7 linked regions of the Homo sapiens genome follow. The protein of the gene in region 6 interacts with the protein of the main gene of each other region in a pairwise test. Each region holds a gene or a part of one and is shown on either strand. Other genes may lie near its edges.

Region 1 (3,500 bases), on a different chromosome or scaffold from region 6:
TAGACTACAATAGATAGTATTGCTTAGTTGAGTACCAAATTTTATTAATGCAGATAATCCAGCTAGTTTAATTTTGATTTAAAACCTTTTTCCTGTCATCCCAACAGCTGTATTTTTACCTATGTGTACAGACATGTTTCATCTCTAGGGTTAATGGAAGTTTTACTATTTTAACGGTTTCTTCCCTCCTTAAAATTCTCTATCCTAGTTATCAGGCAAAAAATGTTTTGGGGCATGCTATTTATCCAGTCTAATAAAGCTAACTGGTAATATTCATCACCTAAAGAGTGATGAATTTAACACAAACAAATTAAACGAATTATTGGGGAGGCAGTCTTTTCTTTTGTTCAGAATTCATAAGGTTTGTGTTGTTAGCATGGTGTATTTTTAAAAGAATGATAAAAATAATCATGTTTAAAGAAATAAATTTACTTTAATGGTACTTTCAAAAAGACTAATCCATAACAAATTAAGTTATACTGTATTTCCTTTGCTACCCAGAACCACAGGGCTGGTTGTCAACACATATTGAAGAAATGTAAGCAAAATACAGAAAGTGATGATTTTCAAAAGGAAGAGAAGAAACTCCTTTTCAACAAACACTTTATATCATTTATTAATGCAGTATACATTAGATCTAAAATCTGCAGTTTCTAAGCACACCATGTTTAGATCTTTCAGATCCTTCTGCAGTTTTAGGTTATTTCTACAGAGGTACCTTTAAGTGAATGAATACCACATTCTGTAATTCCTGAAAATATAGTACAGAGTGAAATGATTTAAATATAATTTAGGCACATATTGATTATGAAAATAGATTATCTCTCAATACAATACTTCTCTGTCTTGGTAAAAATAATAAAGCAAAGAAAATAATTCATTTCTGAAGTTGCTTTCCTTCACTTGTAAAGGTCTGATCTCCTCCCACTATGCATATGTACCCTTTACTGTTAAGGAAAGCTTTGCATATGTAGATATAGAAGAATAAGCTACGTAAATACTAAAGATATGTCATTCTCCCAAAGGAGACACAGGTGGTTTTCAATGATTCCTTGCCTCATGTTGATGAGTCTGTAGAATTCAGAACCCATTTGGACACAGCTAATATCCCTGCTCTTGGGGTAGAAAATAAGGACACCAAGTCATTGGTAGGGAGGTACAGGCCCTTCCTCTGCTGCTGCAGAGAGAGAATGACTCAAGAAAATTGGGCTAAAATTTGTTTAAAAAAAAAAAACCACAAAAAAATAAGTAAAAGAATCACAGGTGCTGACTGATTGATAATTACATCTTGGACCAGCCAAATGCCTTTATTTTTACGTCTATTTTTTTGGTGGCTGTAATCAAATGTGTGTTTAAAATTCCTCATTCCCCACTGTAGGGTTCTAGCTGCAATTATATTACATTGCCTTTTAGCAGGCAACTCTACCATATTCACTCATATAAGCTTTGATTGCAGTAGCTCTGGATTTAGTATCTATTTCTAAGCTGGCCCTATGTAAACTATTTGGTATTTGAATTAAATGAATATTAATGATGCACCTTGGTTTTTTTGGTTTTGAAGTATCTTCCTATGCTTGTGATGACTGTATGAGAAAACTAGGCTAATAGTGTAAATAGATAGAATTGCTTGATCTGGTGTTGAGTGGAACTTGCCTAGAATGAAATTCTGAGAAATTCTCATTTGTAAGTGTTGTAGTGATAGGTAAGTTATTCCTCCATCCAGAGTTACACTGTACCTTTGGAATGACAGTGATGTACAATGATGTCTTTCTTTCCACTCTGTCTCAATCAGTAAGAACTGGATATTACTTTAATTTAGCTACTGTTCTGTCCTAAAAAGTAAACATTATAAAAATGAACCTGAAAAGAGTCTTAGGGAGTCTGATCTCACCATATTCATACGGTGTGACAGGTATTTAAAGAGGGGAGGCATCACTAAAGCTATTTATAAACCTGAACAACCTTTTCCAAGTTTTCATAAAGTTTTAACAATTTAAATATCCATACTGCATCTAGGAATTCAATAAATATAATTGCATATGTTGTGCTTTCCATAAATTAAAATCCTCAAATGCATCTCAAACCAAGATGGTATTTCCACATCATGCCTATTTAAAAGCAAATATAATAGATACTATGCCTGGTCATAAAACCAGGTAAACCCCCCTACCCCATTCAAAAGGCAGCAATATCTAGTTTCCCTACATCTATTAAATGAGTGCTTTTCTGTTAAAAATCAGAATATGGAAAAAAAGTCAGTTTTTTCCCTTATGCACCACTCAAAACAAGCATAATCCTCTAAATGTTTTTTTTTTAAATTTCCTTACAGTGTTATTTCTTCTAGACAACTGAGTGGGTGGAGAAAGAAAAGTGATAAGGAAAACATTTTCATCTTTTACATCTTCCTCCAGCCCCTAAAATTCTCATCTGACACTTTGTGACATGTGTAGTGGTGTCAGCATCTCTTCAAATATAGCTCCCTTCACGTTGGACCCTCTCAGGTTGGCTTCTTGAAGATCACACCCAGACAGATCACAATTCTGCAAGATGAAAACAATATTCATGTAATTCATGTGGAAATTTCAGGCCTTATCTATTTCTGCTCAAAATGATTTCTGGGGCAGATTAGGAAAATGTTCTTATACAATAAAACTCAGTTAATTTCCGGAAAACTGATGATACACCACCCTAAATTAAGATGTTCTTCTATCTTTATTTGTTACCTCTAGTTCAGGCTGATCACCATAAATATGTATAAACAAAGGTTAAAGAGGAAGCATGTCCCTTGTTCTTGCATATTTTATAAGGAGACATTGAAAACAGGGGTCCCCAACCCCTGGGCCACAGACTGATACTGGTCCATGGCCTGTTAAGAATCAGGCCACACAGCAGGAGGTCACCAGTAGATGAAGCTTCATCTGTATTTACAGCCAGTCCCTGTATGGCTCAAGTTACAGCCTGAGCTCCACCTCCTGTCAGATCAGCAGGGGCATTAGATTCGCACAGGAGCGTGAACCCTATTGTGAACTGCACATGTGAGGGATCTAGGTGGGGTACTCCTCATGAGAATCTAATGCCTGATGATCTGTCACTGTCTCCAACACCCCCAGATGGGACTGTCTAGTTGCAAGAAAACAAACTCAGGGCTCCCACTGATTCTACATTATGGTGAGTTATATAATTATTTCATTATGTATTACAATGTAATACTAGTAGAAATAAAGTGCACAATAAATGTAACGCGCTTGAATCATCCCAAAACCAGCCCCCGACTCTGATCTGTGAAAATATTTTCTTCCACAAAACCAGTCCCTGGTGCCAAAAAGGTTGGGGACCACTGATTTAAAATACAGAATGGATTCCAACATAATAAATACACACACACACACACACACACACACACACACACAATTTTTTTTTTGAAACGGAGTTTTGCTCTTGTTGCCCAGGCTGGAGTGCAATCTCGGCTCACTGCAACCTCCACCTCCAGGATTCGAGCT
Region 2 (3,500 bases), on a different chromosome or scaffold from region 6:
ATGGTGAAACCCTGTCTCTACTAAAATACAAAAAATTAGCCAGGTATGGCAGCATGCACCTGTAGAATTGCTAGAACCCAGGAGATGGAGGTTGCAGCGAGCCAAGATCGCACCACTGCACTCCAGCCTGGGCAACAGAGCGAGACTCTTGTCTCTAAAAAAAAAAAAACGTGGGTTGATTACTGGGGGAACTCAGTTATCTTCCTATGTCTCTGATTGTGCCCTTTGAGGTTACATTTTCTCTGGGCATCAACCACACCTAATTAAATAGGACACCAAAAGCTGCTACTTTACTTAATATACATCAAAGAGACAGTAGCAGCTTTAACACATAGATGCCACTTCCTGCTTTCACATGCATTCCTATCTTGAAAGTTGAACAGGATTTTAACAGAGCCCCAATATCTGGAGTAATGCTGCTCTTGTAGAATAGTTGTTACATTTACATCCAGAAACATAGGGCGTTATGGCACAGGGCGTGTCCTGAGCATTCAGATGATGCAGAGCCACGGCTGTTGTGTACATGTGTGTTGGAACCACTGAGAAAGATGTGTTGCTTTTGTTCCCTGTAGTAGATTTTCCAACACCAAAGACTGAGCTGGTCCAGAAGTTCCACGTGCAGTACTTGGGCATGTTACCTGTAGACAAACCAGTCGGTATGTGAAATGTTTATTGTCTTTCCACTTTGCAAGTGTGCGGGAGCTCACAGGAGGCGTTCGCCCTCCGAGGAGGGTGAGGTCTGCTGTTTACTCTCACGCCTTGTCTTGAATCAAACTGTCACACTGTCACCTGCCAGAGAACATAAACGGTCCTGATCAAAAGATGAGTAGAGGGACAGGCCCCGCTGCTTTGACCTGTCATCCCCAGCATGCAGGACTTTAGCAATACAGACGTGGATTTCTTGTTTACCCAGTAGTCCAGAGCTGTGTGACTCAGGGCCGTGGAAGAGCTCCGCTGCTCTGAAACGAGGCCTCCATCTCTGAGGCCAGGGCACCTGCTTCGTGTCTTGTCAGCTGGCGGGCCAGGAGAAAGGACTGTGGAGGCTTCATGCTGTCAAGGAGTGACACAGTAGTGGCACACACAGCATTCAGCTCACATGCCAGGGGCAGAGTGTAGTTGCTGGGCTATACCAAGCCAAAAAGAGACTGGGAGATGAAGCCTTCACCAGGGCTAAAAAAGGCTGTGGAGAAATCGCAAGCTACATATACTGCCAAGGGGGCTGTAAGATGGTGCAGCTGCTTTGGAAAACAGTCTGGCATTCTTCAGAAGGTGAAACATAGTTACTTTAGACCCAGCAACTCAGTTCCTAGGCGTAGACCCAAGAGAAGTGAAAACGTTTGTGCATGCAAAAACGTGTATGCAAATGTTCACAGCAGAATTATTGATGAGAGTCAAAAAGCGAAACAACCTGAATGTCCTGACAAATCAACTGACAATTAGATAAATAAGATGTGATACTTCCATACAGTGGAATTTTATTTGGCAATAAAAAGGAATGAAGGACTGAAGTGCGCTGTAGCGTGGATGAAGCCTGAAAACATGCTATGAGGGAAGTCAGTCCCAAAAGACTGCATACTGTGTGATTACGTTCATATGAAACGCCCAAAATAGGCAGAGCTCTAGCGTCAGAAAGTAGGTAAGGGTTGCCTTGGTCTAGGGGTCTGGGGAGTGGGGGAAAAATGCAGAATGACCCCTACCAGGCACGGGGTTTCTCTTTGGGGTGATGAAACTGTTCTAAAATTGATTATGGTAGGTCTAGCATGGTGGCTCACACCTGTAATCTCAGCACTTTGGGAAGCCAAGGCAGGTGGATTGCTTGAGCCCAGAAGTTCAAGACCAGCCCAGGCAACATGGCAAAACCTCATCTCTACAAAAAAAATTCAAAAAATTAGCTGGGCATGGTGGCATGTACCTGTAGTCCCAGCTACTCCAGAGGCCGAGGTGGGAGGATCATCTGAGCCTGGGAGGCTGAGGCTACAGTGAGCCGTGATTGTACCACTGCACTCCAGCCTGGGTGACAGAGCAACACCCTGTCTCAAAAAAAAATTGATGATGGTGATGGGTGCGCTCTGTGAATGTACTAAAATCCACTGGATTGCACACTTTACGTGAGTGAATTGCATGTGAATGATACCTCAATAAAGCTGTCACTCCCACCCCTATCCCCCAGAAAAACTGTGGAAACAGCTGGCAAAAGGGCCCTACTCAATGGGGGGATCCACTGTAAAGGTGCCATCAAGAGACAGTGAGGGTGGAGAGAGGCTGAAGGGCCATGGTCTGCATAGGTAGACAGCGTCTAAGGCACCAGGTCCCCGGAGCTTCTCCTGACTCTCCTCTCCTACTGAAAAGGCTGTTATTTCTTTTTTTTCTTTTTCTTTTTTTGTTTTTTGAGACAGAGTCTCACTGATACTTGCCCAGGCTGGAGTGCAGTGGTGCGATCTCAGCTCACTGCAGCCTCCGCCTCCTGGGTTCAAGCAAGCATGTCCAGCTAATTTTTGTATTTTTAGTAGAGACAGGGTTTCACCGTGTTGGCCAGGCTGGTCTCGAACTCCTGACCTCAAATGATCCTGGCTCAGCCTCCCAAAGTGCTGAGATTACAGGCGTGAGCCACTACGCCCGGCCAGAAGCTGGTATTTCATTCCTGTTGAGCAAACATGAGAATGAAGTGTCCTGTCTATTAAAAAAAGATCAGTCTGGGCGTAGCTGTTATTGGTGATTTGGGCCCACATTTGAGTGTGGTAAGTGGCTTTAGGACACTTTAAATTATCCTTTTCTGTCCCCAGGAATGGATATTTTGAACAGTGCCATAGAAAATCTTATGACCTCATCCAACAAGGAGGACTGGCTGTCAGTGAACATGAACGTGGCTGATGCCACTGTGACTGTCATCAGTGAAAAGGTGAGAAGGAATCTTCGATGACATTGGTGTGTCTTATACAGTGAGTATAAGATACAGTGGTTTTCTGTGGAACTTAGGAACATAGTCAAGGCCGGAGTTGTGCATCCTTGTGATTAAGATGGCCTACATTTGAAAGATTTGGCCCTTTGTCTGGGTCTAAATCTGTGCATACCTCTGTTTTCCTGTGGCCTGAGAAACTTCTCTTCTGGTGCTTCTGATTCTGTCTTCCTCATGTGCCCCAGAGAGAAATTGTTTGCTAGAGGTGAGTGTGTGACGCTAGTAGTCGCTCACTCTCAGGGCGCCAGTATTGCCTGGGCTGTGTGATCTGGGGATGAAAAGCAGAAGATGCTTCCATTTGGGAGAGTCCTGTGACTATCAGTAGCAGAAGGAGCTATTGGTTGTCTTGAGAAGAGGCCACATTAGCCTCAGCCCAAATTATCTCAGTTTCGTGGTTGAAGAAATTGAAGCACAGAGAGGCTAAGTCATTTGCCCAGCATCACACAGTTGGAAGCAATGGAATCAGGACTTAAATCCAGGCAACCTGGCCCAGACTTGTGCCCACTTTTCTATTCTGCCTCTGTGAAGCACCTGCCAGGGAAAG
Region 3 (3,500 bases), on a different chromosome or scaffold from region 6:
GTTAGCACATGCCTGTAGACTTGGGAGGCTGAGGTGGGAGGATTGCATGAGTCTGGGAGGTCGAGGCTGTAGTGAGCCATGATCGCACCACTGCACTCCAGCCTAGGGGACAGAGCAAGATCCTGTCTCAAAAGAAAAAAATGTATATATTTGAATGGATAAAGAGATGGCTTTGAGTTTCTGAGATATATATGGTGCTGTTTATCTAAAGTAAACAAGTTTTCTGTAAATATTTTAAGGCTTTGCAGGCCAGCTGTAGTCTCTGTCACACATTCTTATTTGTGCATGTTTTTCCCAACCATGTAAAAATGTAAAGTGCATTCTTAGCTACTGGGGCAGGTTGAATTTGGCCCATGGGCTAGAGTTTGCCAACCCCTAACTTAAACCTTTGTACTAACTTTATGACCACTACTGGATTTTTGTTGTTGTTTGTTTTAGTTCTGGTGCCTGCTTTGTTTTTTTTTTTTTTTTTAATCCTCTTGCTGATGTTTCTTGGTGCAGTTACTGTGCCATTTGTATTGGTGCTTTTAATGTAATGCAAACTGGTAATAATATCTAAACTTGCTGGGGTTGTACATAAAATTATTGAAAAGATTGAAAAGATGCTGAGCATTGACTCTGTGGCATTCATTATGCCCTTTTGTGATTGCTGGATTTTAGCCATCTTTAGGACATTTGAGCTTTAGGAGAAGCCAAATTCTGTATAAATGACTTGAAGTGCTAATAGCACAGGTTTTGAAACCTCTGCCTGGGTTTGAGTCTCAGCTCTGCCTTTTACTACCTGTGTGATCCTGAGCAAGTTACTTAGTATCCCTGTCCTCTAGTTTCCTCCTCTGTAGTGTGGGGATAATAACATAGACATAACCTGAGAGTTAGAGTGTAGAGAAGGCTCCCTGGCAGATAGTGCTGTAGAAGTACTGGCCATTGCCATTACTCAGGTGCTTGTGTTTGCTGAACCTCATAGTAAGGGCTCGGAGAGCACTAAGAGGAGGTGAGAAATGCTGCTAGATTGACAGCTTGTCCCCAGATAGCCCATTCCCGAGAGCACCTTAGGTTTATACCTGATTTGTGTTGTAGTTAGTAGTGTCTCTGGTAATTTGAACTAGTTTCAGGTTGGTCTTGAAAACCTGGGGAGGTTGGGGGTAAATGATTTGGTAGCAGTTCTCTTTTGTGATTTTATACATTATCTTTGTAGAACTGCAGTTTGCTAATTCTCTGAGCCCAACACAATGAAGTCTGGGCCTAAAATCATAGAATTTCTTTTATTTTTTTTTTTGTTTTTAATTTATTTATTCCCTCCCTCCCTCCTTTCTTCCTTTCTTCCTTTTCTTTCTTTCTTTCCTTCCTTCCTTCCTTCTTTCTTTTCTTTCTTTCTTTTCTTTCTTTGGAGTCTCACTCTGTCACCAGGCTGGAGTGCAGTGGCACGAACTTTCTTCAGAGTCTCACTTTGTCACCAGGCTGGAGTGCAGTGGCGCGAACTCAGCTCACTGCAACCTCCGTCTCCTGAGTTCAAGAGATTCTCCTGCCTCAGCCTCCCGAGTAGCTGGGACTATAGGCATGTGCCACCATGCCCAGCTAATTTTCTTATTTTTAGTAGAGACGAGGTTTCACCATGTTGGCCAGGATGGTCTTGATCTCTTGACCTCGTGATCCACCTGCCTCAGCCTCCCAAAGTGCGGGGATTACAGGCGTGAGCTACCACGCCCAGCCTATTTTTTATTTTTTGAGGCAGAGTCTCACTCTGTCACCCAGGCTGGAGTGCAGTGGTGCAATCTCAGCTCACTGCAACCTCCGCCTCCTGGGTTCAGGTGATTCTCCTGCCTTAGCCTCCTGAGCACCTGGGACTACAGGCGCCTGCCACCACACCTGGCTAATTCTTATATTTTTAGTAGAGGCGGGGTTTCACCATGTTGGCCAGGCTGGTCTCGAACTCCTGATCTCAAGTGATCAACCTGCCTTGGCCTCCCAAAGTGCTGGAATTACAGCCATGAGCCACCATGCCCAGCCAAATCATGAGATTTCAATACCGCTGAACTTTGATTATGGCAAAGTGAACTTCTGCTTTGATTAAAGCTTGATGAGAGAGGTGGCTGGGGATAGTTTGAGATAAGGGCAAGGCAGGAAAATGCATAATCTTACGTGGGCTCATTGTCATTGTACAATTCTTTTGGTCCATGTGGAATTTGATCCGTCCTATGACTTAAGTTATGTTTATTTTTGTTTTTATTTTTATTTATTTTGTGTCTTTTTGAGAGACATGATGTTGCTCTGTCACCTGGGCCAGAATACAGTGGCACAATCTTAGCTCCGTGTAGCCTTGAACTCCTGGGCTCAAGTGATCCTCCCACCTCAGCCCCTCAAACAGTTGAGATTATAGTATGAACCACTGTGCCTAGCCTTAAGTGATTTTTAAATTTGTACTGAACAGTTTGTCCTTTCCTTCCATTAAATCATATTAGAAGTACAGAACTTGATATTTCCTGTAGCAATACAGTTTTTCTTTGATGAAGTTTGATTTCAAGTACTTATTTTTCATAATTTAAAGCTATTTTTTATAGAGAGAATTTTAATCAAATATTTGGATGTCACTATTGCTATATATGGTATTAAGTATGGTGACCATAGTTTGTAAACTCCAAACTGACAGCAAGACAGGAAATTTGTGTTAGCAAAGGCTTTTTTCTTACTGTTTGAATTTTTTAAAAATTAGATACAATACAGAGAGGAGCACACAAATCATTAAGAGTACAGCTCAGCGAATTTTCACACAGTGAACATGTGTAAACAGCAAGTAACAAAAGATTTACCTGCATCCTATAACCTCCCATTATTCCCTTTTCTAGGTACTGTCTCTCCACTGCATTCCCACCAAATATAACCACTATGCTGAATTCTGACATCATAAATGAGTTTTGCCTGATTTTGAGCTTTTGTGACTGGAAGTGTACAGTGTATATACCCTTTCGATTCTGTCCTCTTTAGTTTACCATTGTTTGAGAAATTTATCCATACTGTTCCAGAATTAACTACTGTTAATTATTGTTAATTAACTACTGTTGTAGTTAATTCATCCTCATTGTTATCTAGTATTCTTTTGTGAGTAAACACAATTTCCATTCTACTGTGATCCCAGCTATCCATTTGGGTCGTTTCCAGTTTGGGGTCCATTACAAATAGTAATGCTATCTGTAATGCTATTTTGTATTACTACAAATAGTAATGCTATTTGTGGCACAAAAATACTGCTTTTGTGAACATTCTTATACATGTCTTTTGATGAATGTATGTTTGCATTGCTGTTGTTTACATTATGTACCTAGTAATGGAATTGCTAGATCATAGGAGATGTATATATTAAGCTTTAGTGGATGCATTACATAATTATTAGTTATTATTGGTTATACCAATTTATCCTCTCATCAGTAGTATACAACAGTTTCTGTATCTCTAATCTCCAACATTTTAGCCATTTTAGAGTTTGTGTACTAACACATTGTGGT
Region 4 (3,008 bases), on a different chromosome or scaffold from region 6:
TGTTGAGTACTCTTATTTTTTTTTCAGATTTTCTTATTTTTTAAATTTATATTGTACTAAGCTACATATAACACAATTTGCCATTTTAACTATTTTAAGTGTATAATTCCATGACATTAACTATATTCACAATGTTAGACAACCATCGCCTGATCATCAAAGTTTTTTGATCACCCTGAGTATGCTACATGCGATTGTTTTTTGTTTTAATGAGTTAAAATAAAAATCCTGAGCAGACAGGTGTGTGTGCTCATATTTTTATTTTACCTAAGCCGGAACCCTTGGTCTTACTTCTCGACTGTTTTACCGGCTGCTACTTTTGTTCATTATTACTTCTTTTTTTCACTCTAATCCTGTGATAGGTTAATGTTTATATTACTTGTCATCTCTTGCCTGCAGTGTTCTAAATTGCCTCCCCACTCTGTTCTCCATTGCCAGTCACCGTTCTCTCACCTCCCCACTCCATCTCTCCATGCTTGCTAATCTTCCTGCAACTGAGGCTCGATCCCATCACTCTTTAAGATTTTAAGTGGCCCCTCATTACTAACAATCCAAGCCACTATGAGCAGCATTGTTTCTTAGAATGGTATTTTTACTTTTATTTTTATTTTGAGACATGGTCTCACTCTGTTACCCAGGCTGGAGTGTAGTAGTACAATTACGGCTCACTGCAGTCTTGAAATCTTGGGCTCAAGAAATCCTCCTGTCTCAGACTCCCGAGTAGCTGGGACTACAGGCAAGTGCCACCACACTTGGGTAATTATTTATTATTATTATTATTATTTTTGTAGAGAAGGAGTCCCACTATGTTGCCCAGGCTGTCCTTGAACTCCTGGGCTCAAGCAATTCTCCCACCTCAGCCTCCCAAAGTGCTGGGATTTCAGCTGTGAGCCACAGCACCCAGCCCTGAGAATGGTTTTTTTAAACTTTCTTGTGTCTGTGCCTTGCACAGTGCCTGGCACATAATAGGTGCTAAAAAAAAATTGGGGTGAATGATTCTTGGTTTGGGATCCTGGAGTAAACATTCATAAAACCCATTTCATCCTTGTACAAGTACGGGAATACTAGTCGCTATAACAGATCAACTCCCTAACATGATAGTTTCCTTCTTGTCCATGGCACACTCCAATGCAAGTGTTCTTGTTGGACTCATTTTTTCTAAGCAATAGTTAGGAGCTCAGATTCTTTCAATCTTTGGTGCTATATCTTTAACATGGGGTTTCCAAGATTACCTTGGAAGACATTTCAATTTTGGCCAGCCAGAAAAGGAAAAGAACACAGAGGATCACCCCTGGAAGATTTTTGTTAAGTCCAACCAAAAACTGATGTACATTGTGTCTGCCCACATTTTAATAGCCAGAATTAAGCCACATGGCCACACTGAACTATGTGAGGGAGGCTGGGAAATGTAGTTCAGCTATGTGCCCAGAAAGAAGAGGAAGTGGATTTTGTTAAGTGCAACAGTCTATGCCAGAGTCCTTTGACACTAATTCAGACCTATTCAGATAAGTTCTTAGTGCAGTTCTTTCTCGATATGGACTGAATTGTGTCCTCCCCAAATTCATATATGTTGAGGCCTAACCCCAATGTGATGGTATTTGGAGTTACCTTGAGGGGCACGTATTTAGGATTAGATGAGGTCACTAGGGCAGAGCCCTTACAATGGGATGAATGCCCTTATAAGAAGAGAATGCTGGAGAACTGGCCAGCATTTCCCCATGCGCACGCATGCGTGCACACACACTCACACTCACACACAAAGAGGTCATCTGAGCACACAGCAAAGTGGTGGCCACCTACAAGAGAAGAGGCCTCAGCATGACACCTACTTTGTCTGCACCTTGATCTTGGACTTTAAGCCTCCAGAACTGTGAAAAATTTGTTTCTGTTATTTAAGCCACCCATTCTATGGTATTTTCTTTTCCTTAAAAAAATTTTTCCCCTAACCCACTGTGCCTTATAATATTTTTTATTTTTTTATTTTTTTTCATATGATATTTTGTTGTGGAAGCCTAAGCAGGCTAATATACTCCTCCCTGACTAAAATTCTGCAATGACAAGTAAGATGAATCCAAATCAACATTTTTTCCCTCTAGACTTCTCTCAGCTGGCGCCACCAGAGTTTATGCCATCTTGACTCATGGAATCTTCTCCGGTCCTGCTATTTCTCGCATCAACAACGCATGCTTTGAGGCAGTAGTAGTCACCAATACCATACCTCAGGAGGACAAGATGAAGCATTGCTCCAAAATACAGGTGAGGATGAGATTTGTGCAAAACAAGACTTTTCTAAGTGTTTAGGAGGTGGTTACTTACGTTGAATTAGGTCTCTGGATTCTGAAGATATCTTTCTTTGGTCTGAAGGATTTAGTCTTGTCATCAGAATTTGTGATCCAAAAGTTAACAATCACCTGTTTCTTTTCCTTTTTTTTTTTCTTTTCAAACTGCCAAGCCTTGGGAAAATCACCTGTTTAAAAGTTTAAATTGCTACACCTCAGAATCTCTGGAAGATGGAGCCTAAGATTCTACATTTTAACAGGTTCTCCCAGTGATTCTGATGCAAATTAAAGTTTTCAAGTCCATACTTTACAGTATGTGTTTGTCTGTTAACTATCGGCCCCTGTAGATATAATGTGAAACCTTTAAACTGATTGTACACTTCTACCAACTTTAGTGTTTCTCAGTGTGCTCTGGACCTAAGGTTCTTATTAAAATGTAGATTCCTTTGCTCCATCTAAGACCTATAAAACCAGAGGTCCTGGAACCAGTATTTTAAAGTAATTCCCCAAGTAATTGTTAGAAACTAAAGTTTGAGTGCTCTTGCACTAAAAGAACAAGGCCTTGCTTAATTAAAAATGTTCACATTAATCTATGAGCTTTTTGAAATTAATATGTGTAATTGGAGGATTATCATCTTTTTTTTTTTTTTTTTTGAGATAGGATCTTGCTCTGTTGCCCCAGCCGGAGTGCGCAATCAAAGCTCACTGCAGCCTCAACTTTGAAGGCTC
Region 5 (3,500 bases), on a different chromosome or scaffold from region 6:
CTCCCGGGTTCATGCCATTCTCCTTCCTCAGCCTCCTGAGTAGCTGGGATTACAGGCGCCTGCCACCATGCCCACGTGGATCACGAGGTCAAGAGCTTGAGACCATCCTGGCCAACATGGTGAAACCCCGTCTCTACTAAAAATACAAAAATTAACTGGGCGTGGTGGCACGTGCCTGTAGTCCCAGCTGCTCGGGAGGCTGAGGCAGGAGAATCACTTGATCCCCAGAGGTGAGGTTGCAGTGATCTGAGATCGCGCCACTGCAGCCTGGTGACAAAGGAAGACTCCGTCTCAAAAAAAAAAAAGACTTGGAGGATTTATTTGTTTGGGGTTGATTTAGTTTTAGGTCTAATCTTTATGATTCTTATCTTATGTATTAATAAAAGAAAAATCTCTTTACATTTAATTCTGGCCTGTATCCTCAAAGGGCATGATTTGCTTCTTGCTTTTCTAGCATGGTATGTTAAATTATAAGACTCTTTGCCTCTTTAACTGTGCGCTTCCTTCCTTAGGAATCAGAGAAGATCATTGCTGAGTTGAATGAAACTTGGGAAGAGAAGCTTCGTAAAACAGAGGCCATCAGAATGGAGAGGTCAGGAGGTTAAAATCTGGAAATGTTTCTAAGTTTTCTAGGGGATGTGGATTACTTTATCGTAAGAAAAGATAAAATATAAATTAAAATCAAAGAGTCTGCCCTTCTAAAACACAAAACGAAACCAAAAAAATGGACAGGGATTTATGGCCAGTTGAATTTATGCTTTGAAATGACATCTACATATTTAAATATTATCTAGGGAGTCACAGGTTTATTAGTTACCATATTACATGTTGCTAGGGATTCATAAAAATGGAACATATTGGCCAGGCGCGGTGGCTCACGCCTGTAATGCCAGCACTTTGGGAGGCTGAGGTGGGCAGATCACGAGGTCGGGAGATCGAGACCATCCTGGCTAGCATGGTGAAACCCCATCTCTACTAAAAATACAAAACAAATTAGCCGGGCATGGTGGTGGGCACCTGTAGTCCCAGCTACTCGGGAGGCTGAGGCAGGAGAATGGCGTGAACCTGGGAGGCAGAGTTTGCAGTGAGCCGAGATGGTGCCACTGCACTGCAGCCTGGGTGACAGCAAGACTCTGTCTCAAAAAAAAAAAAAAGGAATAGCCTCTTCTTTTCTTTTTTATATTAATATGCATATCATTTATGAATTATTGACTATCCCAAAGTCAGTTGAGACAAAGTTCTTATCTCAGTGAATATAACTTTAACAAAGCAAGATTTCATTGATTTTGAATGTGATGTTGCTTTTAGAAATAACTTCTCATTAATGATGAGATAAGCACATTATTTTATGTTTGCATTATTGGCTATAAACATGGCCAGTTGTTTTTGCTTTGCAGGCTTTATTTTCCAATTCATATTAGACTGATTTAATTGACATTTTGGTATTAGTGTTCTGATATACCTGTTTTTTTCCTAGAGAGGCTTTGTTGGCTGAGATGGGAGTTGCCATTCGGGAAGATGGAGGAACCCTAGGGGTTTTCTCACCTAAAAAGGTAGGAAACAATGCTGTGAAACCTAATCAGACAGAGACACTTTTTGTTTGTCTTTGTTACTGGGGCACTTCATGTCTTTCAGGACCTACTCTCCCCCTTATTATCTTGATACTTGCCTTAATTTCAGATATTTCTGATTTCATCTTAGAGCATGGTCTTATAGTACAAAGGCAGCCTATTTCTAAAATGCCTATCTTGTTTACTGTTTACAAAAGAAAAAACCTAAGGCAATATGTAACCTTTGGCCATGATTCAGTTTGTTTAGTCATCTTTATTTGTTGCTTTCTCTTAAATTCCCAGCCTAACCTAGCGTACTTTCAGTTTTGGCTACTCTTTCATGTAGATTTTCCCACAGAAGTCGTCTACCCTGCTTTATAACTTTTTGGAACCAATTTCAGCTGTACAGGTTTGTGGAGAATAATACTGCTTCCATTTGCTTCTGCAATTTGTATTATAGACAGCCATTGTACTAAGTAAAGCAATTCCTGTCCCTATCCTTCTAGACTCCTCTGCTTCCTTCTTCATTTTTTAAAAAGTGTCTCCAATAGTTACCTTCCTTTTTACATAATCATAGTTATGAAGTAGTTACGTAGCTTTTAGCTAATTAGAGTAGTAAGGGTTTTTTTGTTTTTTTCTTAAACTAAGTTGCAACGTCTTGTTGGATACTAGAAAATGACTATCAAATGGTTATTTTGTGTGCTTATGTATCAGAAAATAGGAGAACATATATCGATGTACAAAGCATGTATTTTATGCCACTAGTAAATTGTCCTTTATTTCAAGTGACCTCACATTGGCTATTGGAGACTTAAACATCTTTATTCATAGGTTCTGTTGATGATCTCTCTAAGTTAGGATACAAGGGGTGGTGAGTTTTGAATTGGTACTTTTATGTGATATGAAATATTCCTGTGGTTTTCGCTACAATTCTTCTGGTCAGGTTTTTCTATCCTGGCCACATAACTTTTTTTTTTTTTTCTTCCCAAATTCCAATGTGTTATTTTCAACAGAAAAGACTGATGTAAAGACATTTTAGATGCATATTGTAGAATAGAACAGTTAAGTATTTTATATGTTTATATTATGAAAGGTTAGTGGTTTTCACAGTTTTAATAGTTTTTCCTTCAGTAAGACATGTATTCATTCAGATATGTTACTTAGGATTATATAGATTTTAGCAGTTACAGTTTTGGTGGAATTTAATTGTGCCTATGCATATGTCTAATAAAGGTATTTTATAACATCTTACAGTATTAAAGACTGTGAGGAAATTTTTTTTTTTTTTTTTTTTTGAGACAGAGTCTCACTCTGTCGCCAGGCTGGACTGCAGTGGTGTGATCTTGGCTCACTGCAACCTCCGCCTCCCGGGTTCAAGTGATTCTCCTGCCTCAGCCTCCCAAGTAGCTGGACTGCAGGCACATGCCACCACGCCCAGCTAAGTTTTGTATTTTTAGTAGAGACGGTTTCACCATGTTGGCCAAGGGTGGTCTTGATCTCTTGACTTTGTGATCCACCCACTTCAGCCTCTCGAAGTGCTGGGATTACAGGCATGAGCCACTGTGCCTGGCTGGAAAATTTTTATTATAACAACTAGTGAAAATATTATGCATTTAACATAAATCATAAATAACTTGAACAAATGTTGAGATGTACACTGCATGGAATTCCAAAGTGAGATCTCTGCTTCCAAAGCTTTTTCTTACTTTAATTTTACCCATCTTGCTTTAGCTTTCTAGACTTCTTCATGAAAGGAAGGGATATACCAGTGACCACATCCAAACTCAGTCTTAGGACCTGTTTCTGAGATTCCATTTTTCAAATTATGATGTGCTTTAAAGAATGCTACTCACAAAGGGCTTTGACTTTCTCAAACCAGTCAAGTTCTTCAACTACAAAGGGGGATGCTAGTTGAGAAGATGTGGAGGTTTTTCAGATTTCTCTTTAACC
Region 6 (3,500 bases):
GGCATGATCTCAGCTCACTGCAACCTCCCCTTCCTGAGTTCAAGCAATTCTCCTGCCTCAGCCTCCCAGCCTAGCTGGGATTACAGGCGTGTGCCACCACGCCCAGCTAATTTTGTATTTTTAGTAGAGACTAAAACATGGGGTTTCTCCATGTGGATCAGGCAGGTCTCGAACTCCCGACCTCAGGTGATCCACCTGCCTCGGCCTCCCAAAGTGTTGGGATTACAGACATGAGCCACCGCGCCTGGCCAATCCTGTTTTTATTTTTGAGACAGAGTCTTGCTGTGTTGCCCAGGCTCGAGTGCAGTGGCACGATCTCAGCTCACTGCAAGCTCTGCCTCCCAGGTTCATGCCATTCTCCTGCCTCAGCCTCCCGAGTAGCTGGGACTACAGGCGTCCGCCACCACGCCCAGCTAATCTTTTGTATTTTTAGTAGAGACGGGGTTTCACCGTGTTAGCCAGGATGGTCTCGATCTCCTGACCTCATGATCCGCCCACCTGGGCCTTCCAAAGTGCTGGGATTACAGGCGTGAGCCACCACGCCCGGCAATCCTGTTCTTAAACTAACCATTGCTCTCCAGCCTGGGCAACAAGAGTGAAACTCCGTCTCAAAAAAAAAAAGAAGACGGAAAGAAAGAAAAAAGAGCAAGATTATGAGACAAAACTGTGGGATGCCTAGAGAAATAGGCTCATTGTTCGGCATCCAGGAATAGTGGCCAGACTCACTCCCAGGACTGGCCTCATCAGGGAAGAAGTGCCTCTTTAACTGGACACCTCTCCTGCAACCTTATTGGTGGTTTGGATGCCCCTCATGAAGCTCATGTTCTCAGGCTACTCACAGTCAACTCAAAATCTAGTATAGATATGGATGATTGGCAGAACTTAGGGCACATTTGCACCCTGGCTGCTAGGAAGGCTGGGAAGCGGGGTGTTCCAAATGTGGGAAACTAGCAAAATGTAGAGAGGGTATTGTAAAGATGACAGTCTTGAGTGCCAGTGGACTGTCACTCTAAACAACAGCAGCAACAATAGCATGCTTTTCTATTCAATACACGGTACATCGGCATCACCTAGGAAATGGCGAATGCCACATCTCAGCCTCCACCCCAGATTTACTGAAACAGAATCTGCATTTTAACAAGATAACCTCAGATAATTCCAACGTGCAGCAAAGTTGGAGGACCGTTGCTTCAATGTAAGAAAATGCGGCCAGGCGCGGCGGCTCACGCCTGTAATCCCAGCACCTTGGGAGGCCAAGGTGGGCAGATCATGAGGTCAGGAGGCTGAGGCAGGAGAATCACTTAAACCCAGGAGGCAGAGGTTATAGTGAGCCAAGATTGTGCCATTGCACCCCAGCCTGGGCGACAGAGTGAGACTCCGTCTAAAAAAAACAAAAAAGCAACAATTTTCATACAAATGAAAATATACTCACCTCCCCAAAAGCAGAGGCCAAAGGAAAGTGGTTTCCAACTTTGCTATATCCAATTCCAAGTGCCCACTCCTGTCTAGTTCAGTTGTAATCTTGTCCCAATATTCTATACCTATGCTCTCTAATAAAGTTAACCATCACCAATGCATCCTATATGAAATAATAAGGAAAATGAAGAGGAAAAAAGAAAATACATAAAAGTATATAAGACACATCAAGGCAGAAAATAGGAGAAGCGACTGTAGTCCTCATTCCCACACCTGGTCATGAGGCTATCATTGGTGTTATAATTTCCTTCCTCCAGAAAAGAAGTCATTATATGAAAAAGACACTTGTACACACATGTTTATAGCAGCACAATTCGCAATTGCAAAAATACGGAACCAGCCCAAGTGCCCATTAACCGAGTAGATGGAGAAAATGTGGCATAGATATACCATGGAATACTACTCACCATAAAAAGAAATGAAATAATGGCATTCACAGCAACCTGGAGGGAGTTGGAGACCATTATTCTAAGTGAAGTAACTCAGGAATGGAAAATCAGACATTGTATGTTCTCACCTAGAAGTTGGAGCTAAGCTATGAGGATACAAAAGCATAAGAATGATACAATGGACTCTGGGGACTCAGGGGGAAGGTTGGGAAAGGGGTGAGGGATAAAAGACTACACATTGGGTACAGTGTACACTGCTTGGGTGATGGTTACACCAAAATCTCAGAAATCACCAGTAAAGAATTTATTCATTTATTCACCACCTGTTCCCCAAAAACTATTGAAATTAAAAATGCTTTTATAAATAATAATAATTTCCTTCCTTCACTACCTATTCCAAGTTCCCTTGCCCTCAGCAAATACCTGAGCTGGTAGGAGTATGTTACTTGATAGAACAACCCAAAAGTATGTTCTAAGAGATCTTAGCTCTTAGTGGTTCTGCCTGTGTGTAAGGCTGCTATAGTGTTTCATTAACTCCATGCTACTGAAGACAATACTAGGTGTTCAAAAGGTTCCCCAGGTTCCAGAAATACTCCTTTCCCCCATCATTGTGTAATATCCTCTGGCCCTTGATATTCAGGATCAGTCATCCTGCCCAAAATTACCACATCATTATCAATTCAGCTTCCAATGCAATTGGAACCATTGTTGTACCCCCTGATGGAAGCATTTCTCCCTTGACCTCTAAACCACCAAAGCTCGAGGTAGCTGGGGAGGGAGTCAAATTTTCTCAAGTGTAACCATAAGTATAACAGTAAGACGCACCACTCCCACTTCCACTCTTTGGTTTTCAGACCATGCATTCTGGCTAAGGGGGAATCTATTTATTGGTCACTGGTTCAGAGCGTGTCCCACACTCTTTAGGACAACACTTAGCCATAATTGAATATTCAGTAAGCCATCCTAATGTTCGGTAAGTATGGCAAAACCTAACATTCTATCAATACGGTGAATCATTTGAATTCAACCAACTGTTGCCCAATGTCTTTTGCAGTACATTGAGTTCCTTAGTCAAAAATAATATTGTTTAATACGTCATGGCAATGAATGAGACATTTAGTAAGTTTACTGATGATGTTACTTGCAGAGGCACGGTGAGAAGGGAAGGGAAATCCCTATTTTGAAGAAGTGTCTAATCTTATGAGGATAAGTTATCTCTTTGATGATGGAAGGGGTTCAATGTAATTATCCTACCACCAGATGGCTGACTAGTACATCCAGGGATAGGTCACCCTATCAAGTGCTTATGATTGGTCACTTCTGATGGCAAACTCAAATTTGCCAATAGCCAGGTGAGTCTTAGTGAGGGAAGTTCATGTCACTGAGTCCATATGTGATAATTTCTGTGCTGCCGCCATGATCACTTCGTTATGAAGCCACTGAGCAAGCACCAGGGTGACTGGAGAAAACCTGACACACACACAGCTGGTCGTTTTATCTACCTAATTATTGAGAACATACTCAATGGCGTGTTTCTCTAGGTGAGCATTCTTGTGGGGTACAAATAACCCTCACACTCCAGGGCCATTCGGAGGCTGGAAAAAGCAAGTTAAAAAGAATGATGTAGATCTATGT
Region 7 (3,500 bases), on a different chromosome or scaffold from region 6:
ACTTAATCAAAAAGAATGTCCTGACCTTTTATCCAACTCATTTTAAAGATTAAGAAATTAACCAAAATCCCATAATGCTTTTCAAATTTATGTTAAAAATATGTTACTAAAAGCTTACTGCCCTAACAAAAATGCAATTATTGCTTCTCTAGAACATTTACTTTTGTACTGATTTCTAAAAAAGATGTGGGATTACTAACAGCACACATTTACAGTTTTTTTTCCCACTTTAAAGTTAATTCTAAATAGAAATTGCTTAAGAATCTAGAAATTGGTGGCGCAGTGGCTCACACCTGTAATCCCAGCACTTTAGGTGGCCAAGGCAGGAGATCAAGACCATGCTGGCTAACACGGTAAAACCCCGTCTCTACTAAAAATACAAAAAAATTAGCCAGACATGGTGGCGGGCGCCTGTAGTCCCAGCTACTCGGGAGGCTGAGGCAGGACAATGGCGTGAACCTGGGAGGCGGAGCTTGCAGTGAGCCGAGATGGTGCCACTGCACTCCAGCTCCAGCCTGGGCGAAAGAGCAAGACTCCGTCTCAAAGAAAAAAAAAAAGAATCTAAAAATTGAGGCTGGGCATGGTGATTAATGCCTGTAATCTTAACATTTTGGGAAGCCCAGGCAGGAGAATCACTTGAACCCAGGAGGTGCAGGTTGCAGTGAGCTGAGATCATGCCATTGCACTTCCAGCCTGGGTGACAGAGTGAGACTCCGTCTTTAAAAAAAGAGAATGATCAATCCATCTCAGGATCTCAGGTATATATTTTGTGTTGGAAATTTGCAATGAAGAACAAATGGTATACCTAATGCACAGTGAGCAACCCATGGTAAAGGACTGGCTGATAAGTTTTATTGTTTAGTCAACCATAACTCAGCTAAAAACATCTATCTAAGCATAAGAAATGAGAAAAAGCGGCCGGGCGCGGTGGCTCATGCCTGTAATCCCAGCACCTTAGGAGGCCAAGGCGGGCGGATCACGAGGTCAAGGAGATCGAGACCATCCTGGCTAACACAGTGAAACCCCGTCTCTACTAAAAATACAAAAAATTAGCCAAGCGTGGTGGTGGGCGCCTGTAGTTCCAGCTACTTGGGAGGCTGAGGCAGGAGAATGGTGTGAACCCAGGGGGTGAAGCTTACAGTGAACCAAGATCACGTCACTGCACTCCAGCCTGGGCGCCACAGCAAGACTCCATCTCAAAAAAAAAAAAAAAAAAAAAGACATGAGAAAAAGGAAACCTTTTAGTTTTATGAAAGGAAAATAAGCTTTTGAGTTAAGACATGCTCAAATCTCAGCTCTTCCACCTCTTTGAGCCCTAGTTTTCTTAAACTATATTAAGAACTCAGTGATATAAGCATAATGCCTACATAAACTAGGTTGTCAATGCTTGTTTTTGTTTTTTAATGGTCAAGGAAAGACTTCTAAGGATGTTTCAGTTTCTTGTAATAAGTAAAAAAGCTTAAGTTAAAAGTGCAATTTATTAGGAAAATAATGAAATAGCCAATGTAATTCATGAGAAAGGATAACCAGTAGGGTAGTTTTTCTGACACTATGAGGCTACATGATCATTATTTTTACTTTTCTCTGTGTCTGCTTCATGTTTTACTGCAGAGAAGACTTCCCTGCAGCTACATGCATCACATGGGAAATAGCTATCCCATACATAGAGCTTTCACTTCCAAACTTCAACACTAGTACTATCTACACGTAACTGGTATTTCTGGGCCCTTGTTTCAAATTCCTAAGGTAGAAAACTGGTTGGCTTAGTTTGGGTCAGGTATCCATTTTTCTTTTTTTTTTTTTTTTTGAGACAGAGTCTCGCTCTGTTGCCAGGCTGGAGTGCAGTGGCGCGATCTTGGTTCACTGCAACCTCTGACTCCCCGGTTCAAGTGATTCTCCTGCCTCAGCCTCCCAAGTAGCTAGGATTACAGGCATGCGCCACCATGCCCAGCTAATTTTTTTTGTATTTTTAGTAGAGACGGGGTTTCCCATGTTGGCCAGGATGATCTCGATCTCCTGACCTCATGATCTGCCCACCTCGGCCTCCCAAAGTACTGGGGTTACAGGCGTGAGCTACCACGCCCAGCACCGTTTTTGGTTTTTAAGAGACAGGGTCTTGCTCTGCTCCCCATGCTAGAATACAGTGACACAATCATAGCTCACTGTAACCTTGAACTCCTGGGCTGTAGCTATCCTCCCACCTTAGCCTCCAGAGTAGCTAGGACTACAGGCATACACCACCATACACAGTTAATATTTTAAATTTTTTGTAGAGACAGAGTCTTGCTATGTTGCCTAGGCTGGTCTCAAACTCCTAAGCTCAAACAATCCTCCAACTCAGCCTTCCAAAGTGCTGAGATTACAGGCATGACCCACCATGCCTGGCCAGGTATTCATTCTTGATCCAGTACCTGGGAGTGGGAATCACACATGATACAAATCACACATGATACAAATATACAAGGCCCCACCTATTAGAGGGAGAGAGAGGCTGGGCACAAACCCAAAAGGTATCTACTGCAACATTATTTTGCAAAAGCTTGCCTTCTAGAATGTTCTTTTTATCTTTTATTTATTTTTATTTTTTCTGAGACAGAGTCTAGCTCTGTCACCCAGGCTGAAGTGCAGTGGCTTGATCTTGGCTCACTGCAACCTCCGCCTCCTGGGTTCAAGCAATTCTTCTGCCTCACCTCCCGAGTAGCTGCGACCACAGGCGTGTGCCACCACACTTGGCTTATTTTCGTATTTTAAATGGAGATGGGGTTCCACCATGTTGGCCAAGCTGGTCTCGAACTCCTGACCTCAGGTGAACCCCCGACCTCAGCCTCCCAAAGTGCTGGGATTACAGGCGTGAGCCACTGCACCCGGCCCATAAGGGAGCAGTTTGAGATGGGAGGCTTCACCATGTTGCCTAGGCTGGTCTCAAACACCAAGATTCAAGTGATCCTCCTGCCTCAGCCTCCTGGGTAGCTAGAATTACAGGCACACACCACCACATCTGGCAACAAGTTTCTTTAATGAAAGAATACCCTCTGAATTTTCCCATGGTATGACTTTTAAGATATGGTATGATAAGACATGGAAGATAATCATAATGTTATAAGATTATATTTTGGTCCCACTGCTTTTTTTTTTTTTTGTCACCCAAAGTGGAATGCAGTGGTATGATCACAGCAAAATGTAACCTTGAACTCCTGGGCTCAGGTGATCCTCCCACCTCAGCCTCCCAAGTAACTGGGACTATAGGGGCACGCCGCCACATCCAGCTAATTTTTTAAAATTTTGTATAAAAAAAAAACAGGAGTCTCACTATATTGCCCATGGAGGTCTTGAACTCCTGCCCTCAAGCAGTCCTCCCACCTTGGCCTCACAAAGCATTGGCATTACAGGCGCGAGCCATCACACCTGGCCCACTGCTATCTTTTTGTCAAAGACAGTGCCTGACTTTAGCATCTTTTTGGTACAAACACTTTGTCTTTTTTCTTTTTTTTTTTTTTGAG

What was found.
Region 1: the proteins of SPMIP4 (region 6) and KCTD9 interact in binary tests that used the Homo sapiens proteins (3 or more experiments, as listed by UniProt).
Region 2: the proteins of SPMIP4 (region 6) and APBB2 interact in binary tests that used the Homo sapiens proteins (3 or more experiments, as listed by UniProt).
Region 3: the proteins of SPMIP4 (region 6) and ATXN3 interact in binary tests that used the Homo sapiens proteins (3 or more experiments, as listed by UniProt).
Region 4: the proteins of SPMIP4 (region 6) and PRPS1 interact in binary tests that used the Homo sapiens proteins (3 or more experiments, as listed by UniProt).
Region 5: the proteins of SPMIP4 (region 6) and KIF1B interact in binary tests that used the Homo sapiens proteins (3 or more experiments, as listed by UniProt).
Region 7: the proteins of SPMIP4 (region 6) and OIP5 interact in binary tests that used the Homo sapiens proteins (3 or more experiments, as listed by UniProt).

What each region holds. Positions count from the first base shown.
Region 1 is NC_000008.11:25,427,434-25,430,933, forward strand, and holds the end of KCTD9 (BTB/POZ domain-containing protein KCTD9), read right to left. Parts: intron 2,541-3,500; coding exon 2,424-2,540; 3' UTR 414-2,423; downstream 1-413. UniProt on the Homo sapiens protein: Substrate-specific adapter of a BCR (BTB-CUL3-RBX1) E3 ubiquitin-protein ligase complex, which mediates the ubiquitination of target proteins, leading to their degradation by the proteasome.
Region 2 is NC_000004.12:40,823,043-40,826,542, reverse strand, and holds part of APBB2 (amyloid beta precursor protein binding family B member 2), read left to right. Parts: intron 1-572; coding exon 573-656; intron 657-2,783; coding exon 2,784-2,899; intron 2,900-3,500. UniProt on the Homo sapiens protein: Plays a role in the maintenance of lens transparency, and may also play a role in muscle cell strength. Involved in hippocampal neurite branching and neuromuscular junction formation, as a result plays a role in spatial memory functioning.
Region 3 is NC_000014.9:92,100,083-92,103,582, reverse strand, and holds part of ATXN3 (ataxin-3 reference isoform), read left to right. Parts: intron 1-3,500. UniProt on the Homo sapiens protein: Deubiquitinating enzyme involved in protein homeostasis maintenance, transcription, cytoskeleton regulation, myogenesis and degradation of misfolded chaperone substrates.
Region 4 is NC_000023.11:107,645,510-107,648,517, forward strand, and holds part of PRPS1 (ribose-phosphate pyrophosphokinase 1), read left to right. Parts: intron 1-2,096; coding exon 2,097-2,256; intron 2,257-3,008. UniProt on the Homo sapiens protein: Catalyzes the synthesis of phosphoribosylpyrophosphate (PRPP) that is essential for nucleotide synthesis.
Region 5 is NC_000001.11:10,290,570-10,294,069, forward strand, and holds part of KIF1B (kinesin-like protein KIF1B), read left to right. Parts: intron 1-512; coding exon 513-592; intron 593-1,477; coding exon 1,478-1,553; intron 1,554-3,500. UniProt on the Homo sapiens protein: Has a plus-end-directed microtubule motor activity and functions as a motor for transport of vesicles and organelles along microtubules.
Region 6 is NC_000007.14:25,163,355-25,166,854, reverse strand, and holds part of SPMIP4 (sperm-associated microtubule inner protein 4), read left to right. Parts: intron 1-3,500. UniProt on the Homo sapiens protein: Microtubule inner protein (MIP) part of the dynein-decorated doublet microtubules (DMTs) in flagellum axoneme. May serve to reinforce and thus stabilize the microtubule structure in the sperm flagella.
Region 7 is NC_000015.10:41,315,592-41,319,091, forward strand, and holds part of OIP5 (protein Mis18-beta), read right to left. Parts: intron 1-3,500. UniProt on the Homo sapiens protein: Required for recruitment of CENPA to centromeres and normal chromosome segregation during mitosis.